Linked DNA regions of Homo sapiens: region 1 is linked to region 2. The links come from fine-mapping of genetic effects on gene expression. A gene starts in region 2. The other region holds a variant in brackets. All regions are shown on one strand. Distances are between the middles of the regions. Region 1 has its middle 9.0 kb from the start of VAV2. Region 2 holds the start of ADAMTS13 (ADAM metallopeptidase with thrombospondin type 1 motif 13).

Evidence for each region.
Region 1: its variant is fine-mapped to the expression of ADAMTS13 in spleen (GTEx, PIP 0.95).

What each region holds. Positions count from the first base shown.
Region 1 is chr9:133,999,048-134,003,566 of GRCh38, reverse strand. No RefSeq gene overlaps it. Among named protein-coding and RNA genes, the nearest start is that of VAV2, 9.0 kb to the right of the region's middle. The variant G/A (reference allele first, on the strand shown) is at 1,803.
Region 2 is chr9:133,420,279-133,424,278 of GRCh38, reverse strand. It overlaps ADAMTS13 (ADAM metallopeptidase with thrombospondin type 1 motif 13), which reads right to left and starts at 1,912. Exons shown (of 29, transcript NM_139027.6): 1 at 1,731-1,912; 2 at 1,112-1,178. The coding sequence starts at 1,835. RefSeq lists enhancers at 2,158-2,217, 2,338-2,387, 2,618-2,757.

The DNA of each region.
Region 1 (4,519 bases), 580 kb before region 2:
GATGGATGGATGGATGGATGGATGGATAAATGTACGGATGGATGGATGGATGGATGGCTGGATACATGTACAGATGAATGGTGGATGGATGGTTGGGTAGGTGGATAGACACATGGGTGGATGGGTAGATGGGTGGATAAATGGGTGGATGAATGATGGATGGATGGATGAGTGGATGGGTAGAGGGTGGATGGATAGATGGAGGGCTGAGTGGATGGATGGGTGGGAGGATGGAATGGTGGATGGGTGGATGGGTGGATGGGTGGATGGATGGATGGATGGAGGGATGGGTGGATGGGTGGATGGGTGGATGGGTGCGTTGGTGGGTGGATGGGTGGATGGATGGGTGGATGGGTGGGTGGATGGGTGGGTGGATGGATGGGTGGATGGATGGGAGAATGAACTCATGCTGGTGTCTAACTCTCATCAGTTGTGCTCAGAAACAACACAGCACCCTCTGGGACCCCTGAGACCTCCCCAGGAGGCAAGGGGCCACGGTGGCAGCCTCTGTTGCCCAGAGACATGCTAGACCCTGTTCTGGGTGCTGGGAGGACAAAAAGGAGGTAAGCCCACAGGCCAAGCCCCCAGGCCAAGCCCCCAGGCCAAGCCCCCAGGAGCCCACCCCACACCCAGGCAGACATTGCAGGACCTCTAAGCAAGGTACAGAGGGCACTGGGGAGGCCAGGAGATGGTCCCTGAGGGAAGCGATGGCTGAGCTGGGTTTTAGGAGACATACACATTTCCTGGGGGACCAACCTCCCATGGGCCCACTGCTGGACAAAGCCAGACACAGCTTGGTGTGGAGAGAATTTCAAGAGCATGAGTATTGTAGGATTTGGGGTGGGTCTGGAGAGTGGCATAAATTAGACTGAGAGGGCTGTGAGGGGTGCAGAGGGCCTTGAGAATCATGCTTAGGAGGCTGGATGTGCTCAGAGGGTGGGGGACCCAAGACTGTTGTTTTGTTTTGAAATATAACAAACAGCTTTATTGAAATAGAAGTTGCATGCTGTACAATCCACCCACAATTCAGTGCACAATTCAGCGGTTCTTGGTATATTCACAGAGTTGTGCAGCCATCGCCACCATCAATTTTATAACATTTTCATCCCTCCCCAAACCCCTGTACCCATGAGCAGTCACTCCCCCTCCCCACCTCCTGGCACCTCGCAATCTACTTTCTGTTTCTCTGGATTTGCCTGTTCTGGACATTTCATAGAAATGGAATCATACAACGTGTAGCCTGTAGCCTTTGTGTCTGGCTTCTTTCACTGAACATAAAATTTCGAGCTGCATCCATGTTGTAGCATGGATCAGAAAACTTCATTCCTTTTTAAGGCTGAGTAATATTCCACCATATGTTTATCTGTGTTTTTTGTTTTTGTTTTCATTTCGCTCTTGTTGCCCAGGCTGGAGTGCAATGGCACGATCTCGGCTCACTGCAACCTCCGCCTCCCAGGTTCAAGCAATTCTTCTGCCTTAGCCTCCCAAGTAGCTAGGATTACAGGTGCCTGCCACCACACCTGGCTAGTTATCATTGGGTTTTTTTTGTGTGTATTTTTAGTAGAGATGGGGTTTTACCATGCTGGCCAGGCTGGTCTCGAACTCCTGACCTCAGGTGGTCCACCTGCTTCAGCCTCCCAAAGTGTTGGAATTACAGGTGAGAGCCACTGCATCCAGCCCCGTGTTTTGTTTTGTTGGACTTTTGGGTTGTTTCAGCATTTTGGCTGTTTTGAACAATGCCGCTATAAATATAGGTGTGTAGGGTTTTATGTAGACACAAAGGTGGGCTTTGAGCAACAGGG[G/A]GCACAATCAGATTTAAAGGGGTCATTCTTCCTGCAGGTGGGGATGGGGGTCAGATGGAGAAAAGAGCCCAGAAAGGCTTGGCCAACCCTTGGGGAAGTATCACCCACACTCTCTCCCCAGTTCCCAGCATATGCACATGCACACGTACACGTATGTGTGTACATCTGAGCAGTCTCCAAGGCCTGCTATTGTTGAGTGTCCCAGGGACAGGCAAAGCTGGCCCAGTTCTGAGCTGATGGAGGAGAAGAGTCTCTTTAGTAGCAATCCTTGCATTCTTGTATTGATATGGGGGGGTCAGCCTCAGCGCGGAACTCTTTACATCCCCGCTCTCCCAGAACCCCTATGGCCACGGGTGGGGCAGATCGCAATATGGCCACTCATGAGAGAGGAGACAGAAGCTCATGCTGGTGGGGCAGAACCAGGCTTCAGGCAGGTGGACCCAAGTCCAAGTTCAAGATATCAGTGGCCACCAGGCATGTGTGGCTTCTGAGCTCTTGAAATGAGGCTTGTCTGACTGAGGAACTGAATCTTTATCTAATTTGTTTTTTGTTTTTTGAGACAGGGCCTTGCTCTGTCTCCCAGGTGAAAGTGCAGTGGTGCAAACATTGCTTGCTGCAGCCTCGACCTCCCGGGCTCAAGCGATCCTCCCACCTCAGCCTCCTGAGTAGCTGGTACCACAGGTGTGTGCCACCATGCTTGGCTAATTAAAAAAAAAAATTGTAGAGATGGGGTCTCACTGTGTTGCCCATGCCGGTCTCAAACTCCTGGCCTCAAGCAATCCTCCTGCCTCGGCCTCCCGAAGTGCTGAGATTACAGGTGCGAGCCACTATGCCCGGCCTCTAATTTTAATTAATTTAAAAATTGATACTCAATTTCATTTTTGGCAAACTTCTAAGTTTACGGGAAACAATTTGGGTATGCAAATCTACTTTTTCAACTGTGAATTCTGTGAAACCTAAACACATATCAAATGCGTCTGATGAAAATTTAGGGTTCAAACTGAAGTCCGCTATCAGTGCAAACCACATGCTGGATTTTGAAACTTGGCGAGAAAAAAGAATGTCAAATGTCTCTCTAATAGATTTGTACATTGATTACATATTGAAATGATAATATTTCAAATATACTGGATCAAGTACAGTGTATTACTAAAGTTGATTCCACTTACTATTAATTATTTGTCAGCCATAAAAAGGAATGAAGCCCTTCCTGGTGCACGTTCATGGTGAATGGAACTTGGCATCATGCTGGAGGGAAGAAGTCAGGCACAAAAGGCCACACGTTGGCTGATTTCATTTAGATGAAGTGTCCGGAACAGGCAAATCCATAGAGACAGGAAGCAGCTTAGTGGTTGCCATGGCTGAGGATGGGCAGGGTTGAGGAGGGCAGCTAAGGGATACGGGGTCTCCTTTGGGGGTGGCAGAAATGTCCCAGAGTTGGAGTACGTGAGCTGTGGTCTGGCAGGGGTGCTGTCTAGCAGGGTAGGGGTGGGTATGTCTCCTTGGCAGTGCCCTTACTGCGCCTCAGGAGGTGCTGTGGCTAGAGGACAGCTGGAGGGGCCCAGGACAGGGTGGCATTGAATGCCATTAAGGGCATGGACAGGCTTAGAGCCCAGTGTCCCTTGGCCGTGTCTTCCTAGCACCAGGGTGTGCTGCCTCCCTTTCAGTAAGAGCCAAAGTTTCCAGAGTTCGGCAGGCTGAGTCTGCCAAGGACCACATTCAGGAGGCTCCCCAGCCTCCCCCTTGTATCGCATAACTCATAACCCATTCCCATAACTCACAGCTGGCCATGTGGGTCTTGGCTCATCCTCCTAGCTGGTCTGGGCCTCGCCTCCCTCTCCTGCTTTGGGTTGGCCTGCTGGGCTGTGATGAGAGGGCTCCTGCAGAGATCCCAAGTCCACCTCCACACGCTGCCCAGCCTCTGGCCTACACTTGCATGAAGTCCGTTCACATTCACGGAGGGAAGACTGTTTCCCCCTTCCTTAAAGCCTTGATTAGGTGACCCTGAACTCATGAGCTCAAAGACTCCAGGCAGTGCTCACAGAAAACTGCCCCGGTCTCCTAAATAGTCACTGGAAGGTGTCCAAACAATGGCCACTTGGCAGTGAGATTTCAGAGATTTCAGTTTAGGGTACGATCCATGGATTATGGCATTTGATTTAATTTTGAAAGTTGAACAAGAAGTAAAAAATCTATATTTTGCCCTTTCAAACAAAATGTAAAAGCCCCCACCCAATAATTCAGTCAGGCATACTCTGACTGCATGGTGGGCCAGATGGTCTTTTTCTACACCTATAATTTCCCAGGAAATTGTGACAGCTGAATTTGCATGATGTAGCTACAAATGGAATTTGCACAATGTGTGTGTTCATGTGGTTTGGACATGAGAATAATTCCTTTATCCCATCATGTTGGGAAGAGTCAAAACATTCACTTGCCCTTCCTCATGAACAAAGCCAGTGCTCAGTCAGTATTTTCTATGTGGAGGATGGAGGATGGGTGGAGGGATGTGAGGGATACACAGAGGGATGAATACAGGGATGAATGGAGGGATGGGTGGGGGAGGGGTGGAGAGATGAATTTAATGGATGGAGAGATGAATAGAGAGATGGATGGGTGGATGGATGGAGGGATGGGTGGATGGATGGAGGGATAGGTGGATGGATGGAGAGATGGGTGGAGGAATGGATGGGCGGAAGAATGGGTGGAGGGATAGA
Region 2 (4,000 bases):
GCAAGCAGTGGAAAGCTAACAGGAAAGGGGCTGGCAGGTCTTGGAAGGATGGCCTTCCGAAGTCAAGACATTGCGTGTCACCCCCACCCCAAGAGCCAGACCCCATTAGTGACTAGGCACGCAAAGGGCAGGGCCCAGGAGGAGCTGTTGGGCTATTGTGTGCTTTGGGTCACCCCATCAAGACAAGATTCCCACTGCCCTGGTGGCTCTGCCCAAAGGGGAAAGCCCCTGCCCTGCCTCCTGGACCCTGCTCTGGGCACAGGTGTTTCACAAGTAACATCATGGACCCCGACAGGAAACTGAACACGAGTGGAGCCCAGTGGTCTCTTGGGAAGCAGGGGCCCAGGCCAGCCCTCACTGTCCTCTCCCAAGGGAGCCCTTAGAGGGTCAGGGACCCTGGGCAATGATCTCCCAGCCTTTCAGGAGCGGCAGCGCTGGAAGGACCCAGGCTATGGGATACCCAGACAGCGTCGGCTGCATCCAGCCCCCAGCGTGGCCCCAGGCACTGGTCAGTGTGCCTCTGGCCTAGACCACAAAGAACCAGGTCACAAAGTGGGCCTTGCCCTCCTGTTGCCCCTGACCACTAGCCCACCTGCCTCTGGCCCCCATCAGCCATTAGTCAAGTTGCCAATGGCCCTACTGGGAAGGGGGCTCGCACCGGAGAAGGTCACAGACATGGGCCTGTGGGCAATGGGGACAGGCCTTTATCATAAGGAAATCCATGGCCTTAGGAGGTAGCCTGAGCCAGTACCTATCTTGTTTCCCACAGAAGGAATAAATATTTACATCCACGGTCAGAAACCACAAGAGCTCCTGAAAATCAGCCAGCTCAGCAGAGGCCATGGGGCAGGAGGGGCCAGCCAATCGGTGACCGTTCCCTTGTGATATTTAACAGAAGCTAGGGTGAGAACCCTGGCCTGGCTGGAACACCCAGACCAGCTTATATCAACTTGGCAGGAAGTAACAGAGTTAATTAACAGGGTTGACAGCAGCTTCTCTGACCTTCTCCTTCCAGATCCACCAAAAATCCCAGACCACTGACTCAGTGGTGAGATACCCCTTGAAAGTCCTGAGAAACTCCCCCCGGGAGAGAAGACACCAGGACAAGTACCTTTTAAGGGAGCACCAGGGCTCAAGTAAGAAGACACGGCCTGTGGCTCCAAAGCCTGAAGACAACTCTGCAAGACAAAAAGAGATGGATGGGGCCGGGCATAGTGGCTCTGGCCTGTAATCCTAACACTTGGGGAGACCGAGGTGGGAGGATCACTTGAGTCCAGGAGTTTGAGACCAGCTGGGGCAACATAACAAGACCCCATGTCTTAAAAAAAAAAAAAAAAAAAAAAAGAGAGAGAGAGAAAGAAAAAAGAACAAAAAGAGATGGATGAAGAGGGAGACAGGAGGCAGGAGGTGGGTGAGGCCAACCAAGAAGGAGAGGGGGAAATCAGAGACAGGGAGAGGAAGGGAGAGGCAGAGAAGAGCAACCTACACAGTTTGGGACAAACTAGTATCTGTCTGTTCAGCTTCACCGAATGAGCAGGTCGTACTGAGACACCAACTCCCTCTTCAGTGAGCACACTTCATCCCCCAAAGCCCCAAGTACAGACTCCCCTGCCCAGCGCAAACCCCAAAGCTGATGTAGTCAGCTATTTGGCACTCCCCTCGCCCCAGGTAGCTCAGAATACCCCACCCAGAGGCTCCCAGAATACCCCCGCTCCTGCAAATGAGCCCACCTGCTGGAAATGGGAGGGTCCCCAGCAGCCCAGGAGAAAGCCACAGGCAAGGATTCCGGCCACACAGAGGGGAGGGCATCTTGCCCGGGGGTGACGCTGGTGCATCCTCAGGAGAGCCAGCCCGAGGAGTGGAGCGGAGTGAGAGGGGGCCTTGGTGACTGGGAATCTGGTCAGTATGGAATGGGACAGGCCTGCTCACTACTGGGCGGGACGATTAGGCAGTGTTTACTCTTGGAAGCTTCCTGCCAGGGCAGGGGCCGTGGCTAGGGTGGGCGGCCTGCAGCTCCTCCTGCTGCAAGCTGGGCCTTGCTCTAAGATGGTTGCAGTTCAGGGTAACCTGCAGCCCAGTCCTGCACACCAGACAGCTCTCCGGATGTGCACGCCCACCCCCTTAGAGGAGGCCTAAGCCATCTAATCTGGAGAAGGGACACTGGACCAGAAACCCACAGACGGGGGTTCACAAGGAATGCCAGGACCTCGGCTGACTCCCTCTCCGGGGTCCCCGCTCCCATCTGACAGATGAGAGGCTGTGCCAAAGACATCGTGGTTCTGGCTCAACTCTCCACCTACTCTGTGCCTGCGCCTGATGAGGAGAGTCGCAGAAGCAGGCTGCACGGCACCAGATCTCAGCATCATCACAAACGGCCTGGCAATCCCCTTCATCTCCTGGAAGACTCACTTCACATGCTCCAAACCACTCTTTTACACCCACAGAGCCGCACAAGCTGATGACCAGCAGGGGGATTCACCTTGTCTTTCCACCCCTCAAAGTGCAGCCTCTCTCCTCCTCTGCGATCAGGGAGGACACACCTACACTTCCTGCCAGGCCCTGGCTCTGGATCCCTTCCCAGCTCTCTCCTCCTGCATCGTTAGTTTCTGCCCCTCTGCTAGAGCCATTCATTCATTCCTTCAGCCAACAAATGTTTCACTGAGCCCCTGAAACAGGCCAGGCTCTGTGCTAGACACCAGGAAAGCAGCCCCAAGCCAGGCAGACAGCAGCCTCGGCCTCTCACAGCTTAAATTCTAGGGAAGAGAGCCAGACAGCAAAGTTGCTAGACAGACACATGTTGTATATGTAGTATGTTCAAAGGTGGTAAGTGTTATGGAGAAAAATACAGCAGAATAAAGGAATGGGGGACTGGAGGGAAGGGTGTGCTTTCATGCAGGAAGGTAAGGAGGCTGTTGGAGAAGGGGGCATGCTTAGATATCGAGATCCTGGTACCTGGCTCACTCCATCAGCATGAATGACTCTCCTGTCTCTTTTTGGTTTTTGTTTGTTTTTTGAGACAGAGTCTTGCTGTGTCACCCAGGCTGGAGTGCAGTGGCACGATCTCGGCTCACTGCAACCTCCGCCACCCAGGTTCAAGTGATTCTCCTGCCTCAGCCTCCCTTGTGGCTGGGATTACAGGCACCCGCCATCACGCCTGGCTAGTTTTTGTATTTTTAGTAGAGGTGGGGTTTCGCCATGTTGGCCAAGCTGGTCTCAAACTCCTGACCTCAGGTGAGCTGACTGCCTCGGCCTCCCAAAGTGCTGGGATTACAGGCATGAGCCACCAAGCCCAGACACTCTGGTGTCTCTTGATTACAATCAACAACCTTCCCTTGACCCACACTGTCCTCCTGCCATAGCCCTGTTTCTGGCTGTCTTTAAGAACTTAGAAACATTATTTTCAGTGGCTATCTCCACTTCCTTGCCTTCAATTCCCACATACCATTGAAATTGATCTTTAAAAGGTCACCAATAACTTTGTGAACCCTGAAAGAGCCAATCCTTCTTGATGGATCCCAAGTTACTAACTGGGCCTAAATTCAAAGTAGGACCTAGCAGCCATTTGCTGACTAGGGTCACACACACATTCTGCGTTCCTGGAAAGCCCCCACTCTCACTTAACTCTGGGATGGTTTCACAGCTATCTGTTCCTGTTTATGCCGCCAGAATCAACCCATCGACTGTGACCTGCATCGACCAATCTGAACTCAGCAAGTATTAACCAATCAGAACTAAGCAAGTGTGCCTTCCTCATTTGCATAAGTGGACCAAAGTGGGAACCTGGGCAGGAAGTTCTCTACAAAAGACGACCTCTTTCTTTGTTCTCTTTGTTCCCTGGAATGCACCTTTGTACAGAAGGCTGCATTGCCCTGGTTTACAAACTGCTGGAACAAAGTTTTTTTCCTTTTTTAAAAAGAAAACCTGGGCCAGGTGTGGTGGCTCACGCCTTTAATCCCAGCACTTTGGGAGGCCGAGGCAGGTGGATCACGAGGCACGCGGA